2 separate regions of the Homo sapiens genome follow, and region 1 is reported to be linked to region 2. Evidence: microRNA targets listed by miRTarBase, many of them from high-throughput screens and not tested one by one. Region 2 holds a microRNA gene; the other region holds the end of a gene's coding sequence.
Evidence for each region. Region 2 holds the annotated microRNA hsa-miR-4729 (UCAUUUAUCUGUUGGGAAGCUA, at 3,174-3,195, opposite strand). A microRNA usually pairs through its seed, bases 2 to 8, with sites in the 3' UTR of a target mRNA and lowers its output. Matches are read on the target gene's strand: a 7mer-m8 pairs with bases 2 to 8, a 7mer-A1 pairs with bases 2 to 7 and ends in A, and an 8mer does both.

Region 1 (7,112 bases), not on the chromosome of region 2:
GGAATTAGATTTTGGGGATGGCTGTAAAACATTGCAAATTTACTAAAAAAAAAATCATTGAATGAAATTAAATCCTATGGAGATGATAGGTATTTTCATTTTGGCCAGGCAATCTACCTGATTAGGTTCAAGCCACAAGTTCCCACCCCTCCATTCTGCAGTCTGGTTCCAAAGTCAGTTCAGTGTCCAAAGTCTTCACAGGACTATTCAGTTCTGTCTGACTTGTGCACCACCCAGTGGCCAGTTGTGTCTGTGGGTGATGGTCTCTCAGTTCAGCTGTCAATCTTTGGTGTGTTGAACAGGACGAGATCTATGCAGGAGCAGCTCAAGAATGAGCCCTGGGGTTTATAGACAGGTTAATGGGGTTGCTTCACTGATTAACTCTCTCTCAGCAATTACCCTGTTGCTTTCATTTGCTGAGGCTTCTCTTTTTAGTCTTCCAAGCAGAAAACAGGCTTTCGGTATCTGGCTCTACCATGCATTTCTACATCTGAAGCCAAGAAGTGGGAGGACTGAATTGGAAGAGAAGCAACATGGATTGTTTCTGCCCTCTTGGGACCACAGCTCTGTCAGTTGGAGAAGGTTCCCTCCTACATCTTGGCTCCTGGGCTCCTCTTGGGGCTGGTGCCAGTGCCACTGTGGGACTGCTTGTGGGCTGAGGTATGAGAGAACAGGGAAAAGAAAAATGGGGAGGAACGAACTTCTGGATTCCCTCGGAATGTTAGGAGACCCTTTTCCCGTTACTTGAGCCAGAAATAGAGGGCATCTTCTGGAGCTCTTTCTATCTGCACCCTGGTGCCCACTGCCAGGTTAGTCACGGGATGCCGTAGGGGAAACATGGTTATCTCACCACTGGTTTGGTGGTACTTCAAGTTCTGGTCTTCTTGGGAAAGCTGCCTGCAACTATTTAGTTTTCACTGTCTTCCAATAGCTGCTCCATGCATTCTGTACTGTCTCCTGGCTGGACTCCATGCAGGAAGCCTGTCTCCTCCACAGTGTGCACTCACTCAGGTCATTGTTCAGTTTTATTGTTGGCATTTGTTTGCTTTAATTTTTCAGAATGGCTTCTTAGAGGTCGCTTCTTGTTTGCATAGTTTGTCAAACATCAGTTAAAGCCAATATGGTTTCCACCATCTGCTGCTGGATCTATGTGCAATGGGGAGGAGGCACGCCCCGGGCCATTTGCAAGGGTGTTCCGGCTTTTACTTCCTAACACTGGCACCGGCACACACACAGGCTGTGTGCCCTGGGCATATGGACATGGCTTGGGCTTGCTCTAATCTCTGCCAGCTATGAGCCTTCAGTCCATTTGGGTAGTGTGAAGAGTTTACTAAGCTCCCTCTGGCTCTCCGACCTCCCGGAGCTCCCTCTTACATCCATGACTAATCTGCAGGTCATTTGCTCGTCTCCAAAGGCCCAGAGCCTCAGGCTAGGAGTCAGTGGCCTTTCTTCCTCCTGGTCACTGATATCACCACCTTAACTAGCCATGCTGCAAATCAAAACCTTCCTCACTCTTGCCTCCAGCCCCTGCAACGAGGTGGCAGGGGAGCTTATCTCCACAGGCTGCCCTGCTGGGGGCCGCTGTGTGTGTTATCAACAGCTGGGGTAAATGGGGGTAGCAGCCTGGGCAAAGATGCCACAGACACAGGCTGGTCTTATCCAAGGCTCACTTTAATTCTTCTTTTTTTTCTTTAGGGACAGGGTCTGTCTCACTCTGTTGCCCAGGTTGGAGTGCAGTGGTGTGATCACAGCTCACTGCAGCCTCAATCTCCTGGGCTCAAATGATTCTCCCGCCTTAGCCTCCCATGTAGCTGGGACCACAAGTGTGCACCACCATGCCTTTTTTGATTTTTTTTTTGTACAGACGGGGGTCTCACCAAGTTGCCCAGGCTGTTTTTGAACTCCTGAGCTCAAGTGGTCCTTCTGCTTCAGCCTCCCAAAGTGCTGGGATTACAGGCGTGAGCCACCGCGCCTGGCCAGCTTTCATTCTTAAACACATCCCCATTTGTGCGGTGCCTTTGGTAAAATTACAGAATGCTAAATGGTTTGTCCAGCTATACAGTTACATTTTGGAAAGATTTGTTGACCTCCTCACTTCATCATGCTAGAAGTGGGAACTTTGATTCTCTTTAAAGAATCTGAAGATGAAGGGAAGACCAAAGCATAATTTGAGAGAATGGCAAGACTGAGAAAGGTTTCTGTAGCATGGTGCATGCATGTGTGTGTGCGTGTGTAGGGAGAGGCAAAGGGTTCTGACAAGAGGAAGAGGCTGAGGAAGCAGGCTCATCTCCACAACGTGCTGCTGCCACCCAATCATAGGGTCTCTTGCAGCAATTCCAGTCCTGATCTCACAAACCTCATACCCTAACTACGGTCCCCCTAATTGGGGTCCCTCCTCAGAGCTTTCCTAAGGCTCCCTAACTTTTCCCCTCACCTCGGTTGAGGCCTCCATGGTTTGGACTTGCTGGTTTTGCCTTGCTCTTCCCTTGATAAATACACCATTTATTCCGGTTCAGCCCTTGGAACTTTAAACCTTAACCCAAGCCTCCTCCACCCCACTATATTAGCCCAAGCCTAGAGTATCAGATCTGGATATTTGGGTAAAGATGCAGACAAATTTTGAGTTGAAAAAGAAAGAACTTAATTGCACCATTGCACTCCAGCTGAGGGCAGGGCACAGTGGCTCATTGCCTGTAATCCCAGCACACCATTGCACTGCAACCTCTGCCCCCTGGATTCAAGTGATTCTACTGCCTCAGCCTCCCAAGTAGCTGGGACTACAGGTGCACACCACCACGCCCTATTAATTTTTGTATTTTTAATAGAGATGAGGTTTCACTGTGTTGGCCAGGCTGGTCTCAAACTCCTGACCTCAAGTGATCCACTGGCCTCGGCCTCCCAAAGTGCTGGGATTACAGGTGTGAGCCACTGTGCCTGGACTGTATCTCCTTCTTAATAATAATAATAATTAAAAAACCCAGCATTTACATTGAGTAGAGGGAAGACTACACCATTGTTCTAGATGGTTCAAAATTTGGCTTATCTATAGTAACCAGGTCATTTTATTCATTTACTTGTTTCTATTATATATTCATGAATACTTCAATTTTCATATGTATTTCACATATATACCATTCAAAATAAACAATATACAACAGGTTATTGTTAACAATTATAAACATTTATTAAGCACCAAGAATATACTGTGGTGGTTGCTATATGAAAACATAATTACCAATATAGTATCCCTGCCATTGAGCTTACAATCTAAAACGAAATACAAGGCTATGAGCCTATCTAAAAACTTCCTTAACTTAGAAATGGCTACTTTGGCAAATGAGTGAGGCAAAATGACCTATTATTCAGGTGCAGTGCTAATAAGGCTTTGAATATCATCCAAAGAATGTTTTACTTGTACCCATTGTTCCTGATTATGTTACACTTGCTAAGAAAAACAGTACTTAGAATTTTGGCATGAACAATGAATTATTTCAAATTGTCTTGTAGGACTTTAAACAAAGAGATGCTTACTGGCCTAAGTTTTCCAGCAGCCAGGGAAAGCCCTATTAAAAATATTATGAACTAGACCAAGTTTCTCTTTTAATCCACTTACACTTTTTTTTTTTTTTTGAGACGGAGTCTTGCTCTGTCGCCCAGGCTGGAGTGCAGTGGTGCAATCTCGGCTCACTGCAAGCTCCGCCTCCTGGGTTCAAGCCATTCTCCTACCTCAGCCTCCCGAGTAGCTGGGACTACAAGCGCCCGCCACCACGCCTGGCTAATGTTTTTTTTTGTATTTTTAGTAGAGACGGGGTTTCACCTTGTTAGCCAGGATAGTCTGGATCTCCTGACCTCGTGATCCGCCCCCCTCGGCCTCCCAAAGTGCTGGGATTACAGGCATGAGCCACCACGCCCGGCCCACTTACACTTTTTAAACTTCTTCCTCTTCTCCTATACCTAAGGGCTCCAATGATACTACTTATCAGGGAAGAAAGTACTGTATCTAGATAAACTACCCTTAAGTATTACAGGCTTAGCAAGTTGAATTTCTAGAAAATACTCATTCATAATTTATTTATTTATTTTTTTTGAGACAGAGTCTTGCTCTGTTGCCCAGGCTGGAGTGCAGTGGCGTGATCTTGGCTCACTGCAAGCTCTGCCTCCCGGGTTCCCACCATTCTCCTGCCTCAGCCTCCCGAGTAGCTGGGACTGCAGGTGCCCGCCACCACGCCCGGCTAATTTTTTTGTAGTAGAGATGGGGTTTCAGTGGTAGCCAGGATGGTCTTGATCTCCTGACCTCGTGATCCACCTGCCTCGACCTCCCAAAGTGCTGGGATTACAGGTGTGAGGCACCGTGCCTGTCCACTAATTCATATTTTAAAAGAGGACTGAGCAAAGACAGCAATGGAACCTCTGGCTGCAGGAGATGCCTGGGTATGCCTGATATGTAAACAAACACAAGCAGTCGAGTTCAGGCCATGCATCTTCAAAGTGACGAAGAATATATGTAAATGCTTGTTTTTCTCCTCCATATTTCTCGTGTAGAGGTATATGAGAATTTAGCATCAAGACGCTATACTGCAAACCCTGTTCTGTGTTGCCTATATTCATAGCATAATATTTAATAAATACTCCCAAGGTTGTCATTGCTGGTCACATATTAGCTGACAAAGGCACACTGAAGGGACTTTGATTCTTACTGTAAAATGCAAAGATTGTTTTAAACTACTCAACATATACAATCTTAAACTATGTGATGATTATTCTCGATCATTTATGATAATTTCAATTCTAAAAGATTACTAAAAAAAATTGGTTGTAGGGTATCTGAAAACAAAAATAGAATGTACTCCATAAAGTACATGCACAGAATTTTTAAAAATGCAGGCATACAAATATTTAATGGCAGAGTGGTAATAACCTGAGACTTTTTAAAAATGGCAAAACAATATTTCAGCAATTTTTGGAAAAAAAACCCAAATATTTTCCCTAAGAAGTCTCTCTTGGCAACTTTCTTTTTAAGCAACAAAGCAGCAGCAACATTTTTAAATGTTCATAAAGCTCGCTTTCCATTAACAAGTTTATTAAGGAAGAGTGGTCCTGAAACTTCAGGATAAAACTTTTGATAAAAATAGAATCACTAATTTTGACCTAAAACAGACACTAAAACACCCCTCCTTCCAATTTAAGAGTGTCATTTATACCTCCTACTTACAGTAAATAAATCAAATTAATTATAAGATTTCAAATGGAAAATCTGAAACACATATCAACATCATTTTCTTCTAATAAGATAACAGAAATTAACTTCAATGGATTTCCCCAAAAAGAGAATAGTTTCTAAAAACTTAATTACAGCTGTGGTAAATGAATCTGGGTTTACCAATCTCAGATCTCAATGCACTTAGTTTTAGTTGGTATTCTGTGAGATGGCTAGAATTCCTGATTTAAGTATGTAGTATGTATGTTTTTAAGGCAAGGCAAGTTTGAGTATGTATAAAGCATAGATATTAGCATGGTTATAAAGGCAATATGACCGACATACACATTCAGTTTTCTGAAGCAATATATTCCAAGCTACATACAATTTAATTTCATGTCCTATTCTAAGACTACATGCTTAACATTAAGCTTAGAAACATAATTGCTGTAATACATTAAAAATACTTCATTTTCCAATATTGTAAAGTATATTTCCAAATACCTGGTATAAATTTTTTTTTGCACAAAAATTTAAAGGACATCCTACAGCTAGCTATTACTACTGCGTTAAGTAATCATTTGAAGGAAGAATTCACAAGGAGAGCAGGTTATAAAACTAAGCATAATAATTATTGCATTTAACTAAAAAAAATCAAGTAGTTCTGAATTACACTTGTTTTTTGTCTTAGTAATGTGCATATTCACTTTCTAGCTACTAGTTTGATAAATATACTAAGATTGTATAAGATTTGTTTTTCTTGTTTTTGTTTTTCTTGGGTGGTTATTTTTCTTTTCTGTGTCCTTCCCCAACAGCAGTTGGAATTTTCTTTTGAACACAAAGTAAATTAATGTTTATACTGTTTTTTCACCTGAGTCATGTAAAAGGTGACTCCTTTCATTTTAAAAAGTTATATTTAATTTTTGGGGGCCTTAATTAAAATTTAACATTTAACCATGTGTTTTTTTTTTGTAAACAGTCTACATGTCAACAAATGGATAAGGGTTAACAAAGGCAAATACTGACTTCATTTGTGTTTTAAACACGATTATATGAATTTTTCTTTTTTAATTAAAAAAATGACATAAAACCATTCATATAGGTCCTCTTCTCTCAACTGCTTTGAGATATAGCTTTAAATATGGGTAGATCAAGACAAGTAATGTTGGTAATCTCTTATCTTGCATAGAAAAGAAAAAATAAAGGAACTTATTTCCTTCCTAAGGTCTCAGCTAGTTTCTTAAGTCTTTTCTTCAGCTCCAATGGAAATTTCTCATAGCACTTCTTACAGACTGGCTTCATGTCAAACTCCACAAACTTATTCCTAAAGACAAAAAATTATAAAAAAAAAGAAGTTAGTGGAAACATATTCAACAAAGATATATAAATGATGTGCAGTAATTGTACTGAACTAAACGAAGGCAACTAGGTGATGATATTATATTCATGTTAGTAAAAAAACCATAATCCTAACCTCAATTCTTATTGTGATATATATATAAAAATTCAGTATAATTTTAAAAAAAAGTCCTTATAAATTGGTTCTATACATCCATCTGTGTAACACAGACTGTAGATTACATTTTATTCAGTACTAAGTAAACAGGAAATCTAATGTAAATATAATTAACTTAAGTACAGTCAATCACTTTTTTTTTTTTTTTTTTTTGGAAACAGAGCCTCGACTGTCACTCAGGCTGGAGTGCAGTGGTGATCACAGCTCCCTGCAGCCTCTAACTCCTGGACTCAAGCCATCCTCCCACCTCAGCCTCCTGAATAGCTGGGACACAAGTGCATACTACTATGCCTGGCTAACTTAAAAATTTTTTTTTGTAGAGACAGGGTCCTGTCGTATTGCCTAGGATGGTAATCACATTTTAGAATACCTTAAAGATAAATTTATCTAAAGGAAAGA
Region 2 (7,000 bases):
ACATAAAGACTGCAGAAGCTACTTATTTCCACCTTCACTTGGCCGTATTCCAAACCTCATGGCTACACCAAAGCCACTGGAATTCTGCAACTGAATTCTCTCTTTAAATTTAGAGAAAAACTCATCAACAGGGAGTTGCAATTGCCCGCTTTCAATGATTTGGGGAGCCTTACTCAAGAAGCCAGGAGTGTCAGATGAGACAGAGGGCCCAGGACCTGCAAACCCCCAGACCTCCATGAACTAACAAAGGCCCTCTTCTTAGAGTTATGACTGCCTGCTGTTTGCCAGTGATCTACCTGCTTGCTATTTAGCTGAAGGCACCACCAAGGAGGGACCCAGCCTGACTATTTTTAAACAGCTATGGCATGTTATCAATGCCCACTACTCCACAACATCAACATTGTATAATCACACAAAGCTCAAGGATACATGGTTTACAGAAGCTAAAGAAGTTGATTTTCCAAAATAGGCTATGTTTTATTCTCATCCAATCTCAATAAAATCCTATCACTCCTTTGCTTAAAACCTTTTAGCAGCTCCTCACAGCATCCAGAACTCTGTCTAAACTCCTTAGTTTGGCCTTCTAGGCCTTGCATGATCCACCCTGACCTGCTTCCCTAAAGCACAGACTCCCCATCTGTCTTCCCTGTGGTCCCTGGACTTGGCCTCGTGTCATGTTTCTCTGTCTCTGCTCAGAATGGACTCCTCTTGTCTTCGTCTTCTTGTCCACTTAGTAAATGCTTCTAAACACTCATCTTAGTAAACATTCATCCTGCTCTTTACCCTCATAACATCTGGAACAATCACTTACAGTGAAACAATGACTGTGTTTCACTACATTTTATCACTGTTTATCTATTTGCCTTCCCCATTAGATCATAAGCTACTTAAGGGCAAGAATTCCAGGCAAGTGCACGGTTCACGCCTGCAATCCCAGCACTTTGGCAGGCCAAGGCGGGCTGATCACTTGAGCCCAGGAATTTTAGACCACCCTGGGCAATATGGAGAAACCTCATCTCTACAAAAAATAGAAAAATTAGCCGGACATGGTGGCGCATGTCTGTAGTCCCAGCTACTCAGGAGACTAAGGTGAAAAGATCATCTGAGCCTGGGAAGTTGTGGCTGCAGTGAGTTGTGATCATGCCTCTGTACTCTAGCCTGGGCAACAGAGTGAGACTCTGTCTCAAAAAAAAAAGAGAATTTCATCCATTTCTGTATTTGTATCCATTTCTGTATCCCCAGTGCTTCATACAGTAGGATTTAATATATGCAGGGTGATGAGGGAGGTTAAGTGACTTGCTCAATGCCACACTGAAAATTTAGCACAAAGCCAGGTCTGGAGCAGAGGTGGCTTGACCCTCATTCAAGGCTTTTCAAATGGTGCCACAGACTCTCCTCAGCAGGGCCCCACACTGTCTTCCCATTACAGTGATGACACTGTAGGAAACTATGTGCCCTATCTGGCTTGATCACCTTGTAACCTATGGTGGGAACCTGTGGGTGCTAGACGGCTGGGGCTGAAGTCTGGCCTATGGAATAGAATTCTCACCAGGGTGTCAATTAAGACCTTGTCAATTAGCACAGTGCCTCAACCCCTACACTCTTCATACAAGCCACCATGCTGGTTTGAGATTCCTCTTGAAATCACAGAAACCTATTTCTCCAACACCCATTTCACAACAGTCATTCTAATCATCTTACCTAGGGTTAAGTAAACCAGTCCAAGGGCCTAATTGGGCCTTTCACCTGTTTTGCAAATAAAGTTTTTCTGGAAAACATCCATGCTCATTTGTTTATATATTCTCTGTGGCTGCAGATTTGAGTGGAGACCCTATGTCCAGCAAAGCGTAAAATACTATCTGGCCTTTATAGAAAAAGTTTTGCAGACCTTTGGATCTAGCCCAAAAAACAGGGAATCAAGACTGCAAACAGCCCCTCCCTTCTACCAAGGGACTGGCTGCCCCTACTCTGGAAGTTAGTGAACCAACTGGCTTTTGAATGAAGTCATTTCTTTTTTTAGCCCTGGTTACAGGCCTGGGATCCAGGAGGAGATTTTGCCTGTCAGAGGCACACAGGGACCTGCAACACCTAGCACATGGCCTGGCACATAATGGCACTCAATTAATGTTTACTGAATAAATAAACAAAGACATGAGAAATCAGCCAGGCTGAGCCTCGAACAAAAGTCCATACTCCTCCTGTCAGTTTCAAGGTGGCCAGTCACACAGGTACCTGGCAGCAGCCGGGTGACCTAGATTTGTCAGACCTTATCTTATTGGCTTTCCTTTCTCGTGTATTTACCCAGCACCTGCCCCCACGATGCTCAGAGCAGGTTGGCCTCTTGTTTTTATAGAGAAAGAGATGGACAGGGAGGAACTCTCCTCCCACACAGACACACTTTGTGTTTTTTCTTTTTTTCTCCCGCTGCGGGAAGAATCAAGAAATATGGGGGCTTCGAGCTTCAAAAAGCTCCATGAAGTCTAGTTTCACTGGCTTCCTCTCTCCTCAGGCTTCCTAGGTGAATGTTTCTGGCATGAACCTTAACGGCCCTCTCAGAGTTGTACCTGTCGTTTGGAACATTTGGCATCTGAAGGGGAAAGGCCAGCTGTGGATAAAGCTGGCAGCTTTCAGAAGGTCAGGAATGTAAACAAAGCAGCCCCCACCCAGTGGGGAGAGGCCTGGTCCTGAGAATACAGACATTCCTCCAAAGATGCATCAGAGAACAAGGGGCTGCCCGACTCGGCTGGGCTAGCTCAGGCCGACTCTGCAGGGGAGGACAGGGACCATCAGGGAAACAAAAGGCACTTCAGCCTCTCATGAAAATTAGGCAAACTGAATGGAAAGCACTATGGAAATGCTGGTTTTTCAGCTGCCCCGGATAACCTTAGGGGCCAGGCTCAGGAAGGAGATCCTTGTTGCTGCTGCCACCAACCGCTTTTTCAGGTGCTGGGTCTTCCAGGAACCAAAGGGTACCGTGTGACAGGCTCAGTGAAGGCAAAGCTTGCATCTGTTTGCCACTGTAATTCCCAGGGTCTAACACGTAAGAGGAGCTCACACAATGTGGAATAAATGACAGGGCCCTCTGCAGGAGGGTTTGCTCAGGGATTTTTTGTTTTGGTGAGGAAACACTTTTCTGTTTCCTCATTTATCTGCTGGGACGCTAAGGTCACAGTTAGCTTCCCAACAGATAAATGAGGAAACAGAAAATTGCTCTTGGTGGAGCCAACCCTAACAAGAAGGAAAAGGAGCTCCTGGGCCCCCAAAGATAGAGAATTTTCCTTTTGATGATCATAATTTACCCCTTCAAAGACCCAAAGGTGTCAGGGGCTAAAGGGGAGGGGAGAACTAGTGCCACCTGCTCCACCTCTTGACATCACTGTAGTCTGGAGGGGAGGGAGTTTATGGACTGATTAGATGTTGTTGTTTCTAGCGGCAGCTGGCAGAGCCATCTCCTCCTCTCTTCCTCTCCCCCTCCTCCTCCAACTCACTGTCCAGCCACCAGCAATAAGCCAGGGAGAGGAGGGAAACAGCTAAAGCTCCCCTTGGCTGGGCAGCCCTTACCCCAGAGATAATACTCTGGGTCACCAGGTCAAACCCTCCTCTCAGCAGCTTTGCTGAGTGCTTTGGAAACAAAGGTTATCAGAGATTCTCTTTTGGTTTTGTTCTTTCAAGATAAAGAAAGTGGTTTCTTTCAAAAGATTCCCCCCCACCCGAAGTGTCACAGAAGGAATCAAACTGACAAGCAACTCTCAGCTCCAGCTTCACTCTCCAGGCCAGGGACTTCTCTTCCAGCCGCCTGGGCTGCTGTGTCACAGCCAACTGAGGTCCTCGGGTGGGTCAGAGGCACAGTAACCACCTGACAGACTAAAAGGGAAGGAGGCAGGGACAGGCTTTTCCATTTACATTCTAGAGAGGCTTCGCTGCTGCCTGCAGGTAAGGCCCCAGAAAGCTGTGGTGGAAGGTGCTGCTGCTATTTCATCACCTCCTGAGACCTGCTGGTCCCCCTGGGATAAGGAACAAGCGATTCCATGAGGAGAGGCCTCAAAAGACGACAGATGACAACTGTAGGGCTCAAGGGCAACTGCTGAGACTCTCCAAAAACAAGGGCAACAAGCAAGAGTGCCAGGCTTGTTGGGGTGCCAGGCCCTAGTTCTGTCACTTTCCATTTGGTTTTCTTTAGTGACTATTCATAGAATAACACTAGCTTCCAACATTTATTGAGCACTTATCACGTGCCAGGCCCTGTGGTAAGAACTTCACATCAATAACCTCATTTAATTTCCACAAAAATCCTATCAGGTATCTAATATTACTATTATTCCCATTTGCCAGTGAGGCCATTAAGACGCAAAGGCGGATGGGCGCAGTGGCTCATACCCGTAATCCCAGCACTTTGGGAGGCCGAGGCCAGTGGATCACCTGAGGTCAGGAGTTCGAGATCAGCCTGGCCAACATGGCGAAACCCCATCTTCTACAAAAAATGAAATAAACAAATAAATAAATAAATAGCCGATGTGGTGGCAGGCACCTGTAATCCAGCTACTTGGGAGGCTGAATAGGAGAATTGCTTCAACTCGGGAGGTGGAGGTTGCAGTGAGCTAAGATCGTGCCATTGCACTCCAGCCTGGGTGATAGAGCGAGACTCTGTCTCAAAAAAAAAAAAAAAAAAAAAAAGACACAGAGGGATTACTTAATGTACACAGCTACTAAATGAATAAGCCAGGTGGTTGGGCTCGGAGTTATACCACGAGCTGCTATGTTATATGGCCTCATATCATCTTATGCTACTACATTAGACTCAGAAGACGCAGGGGGGAAGTAGAAGGAACTTTAAAGACAGTCTAACCTATTGCACTCATTTGGATAAATGAAGAAAAGGGAGAGCCAGAGAGATGAACAGTCTTGCCCAAGATCACAGCGCTTGACACTGTCAATCTTCCAGATGCCAGCCCTCTCCCAGGGCTATGTGCACCAGCTATGTGCAAAGTGGTGTGTCGGGGGAGGTGGCAAAGTGCAAAATCAAGAGGCCCTCAGTTTCTCTCTGGGCCTTGGTTTCCTAATCTGTAAAATGAGGAGTTGAACTAGAAACTCCAGGTTCAAAGGTACCTCCAGCCACAAAGTTCTGAGCATCTATGACTCCAGGACATTGAGAATCTTGTTAGGAAGCAAGACAATTATACATAAAAAGTGCACGCAACCATAACAACACAGACCATACCACAAGACAGTCATTAATTTCCAAATGAACAACCAGAGAGTGAGTTCTACAGACATTCAGAGCATCCTATAAGCCAGGAAGACTCACTAGAAGAAAAAAAGATGTGAACTGGTCTTCAAGAATGGGTAGGAACTGAATAGAGAGAGAGGAAAGGAGAAGGATTCACCAAGGCAAAGGAAATGACAGGAGGGAAGAAAGGGTGGGATTTGCCACAAGGATTACTGAGTAAGACCATAAAATAGGCAAGGCCAAAAGAACCTAGGCCACACTGCGAAGCGGTAGCAAAAAGTACATGAGCAGATCTGAATCTGAACCCATCTGGCTTCTTGGTAACCTGGTAACCTATGGCCTTAATCCCCACATTGAAAGGATGTTGTAAAATAAGTGATGGAGTAAGTAAAATACCTAAAGGAGTTCCTGGCACACAGTAGGTGCTCAATAAAGAGGAAAGTGTTCAGCTGGGTGCGGCGGCTCATGCCTGTAATCCCAGCATTTTGGGAGGCTGAGGCAGGTGGATCACTTGAGGTCAGGTCAGGAGTTCGAGAGCAGCCTGGCCAACATGGTGAAACCACACCTTTACTAAAAATACAAAAATTAGCCGGGCCTGGTGGCGGATGCCTGTAATCCCAGCTACTTGGGAGGCTGAGGCAGGAGAATTGCTCGAACCCAAAAGGCGGAGGCTGCAGTGAGCAGAGATCACGCCACTGCACTGCAGCTTGGGCAACGGAGTGGGACTCCATCTCAAAAAAAAAAAAAAGAAAAAAAAAAAGGGTAAGTCTTTAGGACCAGTGTGGTGGCTCACCTGTAATCCCAACACTTTGGGATGCTGAGGTGGGAAGTCTGCTTGAGGTCAGGAGTTTGAGACCAGTCTAGGCAACATAGCGAGACCCTGTCTCTCTCTCTCTCTATATATATATCTATATATACATAGAAACTAAGAAGGTGTTCAATCAATAGTAGCTAATAGCAGCAACATAGATTTTCCATCTTGTGTGTTTGTTACAACACCAAACAACCTTATCTGTAACATTCTTCTACCCTCCATGGTGAGCCTTGCATTCCCTTGTTTCCTAAACATCACAGGCTCTTTAAGTGCAGGAATCATCTTATCCCTACCATCTAGGTTTAAATGTTGTTTAAAGCACAAGAAATATTGAACTGAACAAGTAGTGTATGACAGTGGATTCTAGTCAGCCCCCAAACGCAAACAGCCAAGCTAGCAATGGTGCAGATTTACCATTCCAGAGGCCAGAGGGAGTGCCACTGCTCAAACAGAAACAGAGGGATCCTGCACCCACTCCTTGCTTCCCAGGTTGAACACCCTGATGAAAAAGAGTTTCTTTGGATTTCTGACTGGGAACACAAGCTTGATTACCAGTGTCCCTGCTGAGAGCCTAGACGCTAATATACAAACCAGTCTTATGATTGGAACCTTAAAGGCATCTGCAAACCACAGAGTTAATTTTCAGGGTACGCCTCATCGCTCAAGTCAACATTTCCTTTTGGTATTTAAAGTAACCACACAGAAAGAATCACATTTGAGCAGATTTTGTGCTCCAGCTGCCTGCAGTCTGCAGCAAAAGAAAAACAAAACATAAAGATGATTCACCAGATTTGGTCCCAGCAGCTCCCTTGATACTAAATTGGTGAGCAACTCTATGTGTGCCCAGATCATTAATTTTCACAGGGAGCAGGCGTGACTGTGCGACAGGTCTGCCTCCCATTTAAAGCATGTGACTTCCTGAACCCAATTCCCCTTGTCCATGCCTACACATGATAAAC

Region 1: miRTarBase lists LIMS1 as a target of hsa-miR-4729. Seed matches in the 3' UTR shown: 8mer at 5,192-5,199, 8mer at 4,768-4,775 and 7mer-m8 at 3,180-3,186.

Annotation. Positions count from the first base shown.
Region 1 is chr2:108,683,294-108,690,405 of GRCh38, reverse strand. It overlaps LIMS1 (LIM zinc finger domain containing 1), which reads right to left. Exons shown (of 10, transcript NM_001193483.3): 10 at 3,160-6,521. The coding sequence ends at 6,407. Among named protein-coding and RNA genes, the nearest start is that of LIMS1-AS1, 8.2 kb to the right of the region's middle.
Region 2 is chr17:59,362,287-59,369,286 of GRCh38, reverse strand. MIR4729 (microRNA 4729) reads right to left here and starts at 3,204; the gene lies at 3,133-3,204. All of the region lies in intron 2 of YPEL2 (yippee like 2), which reads right to left. RefSeq lists a silencer at 1,245-1,539 and enhancers at 2,096-2,865, 2,866-3,635.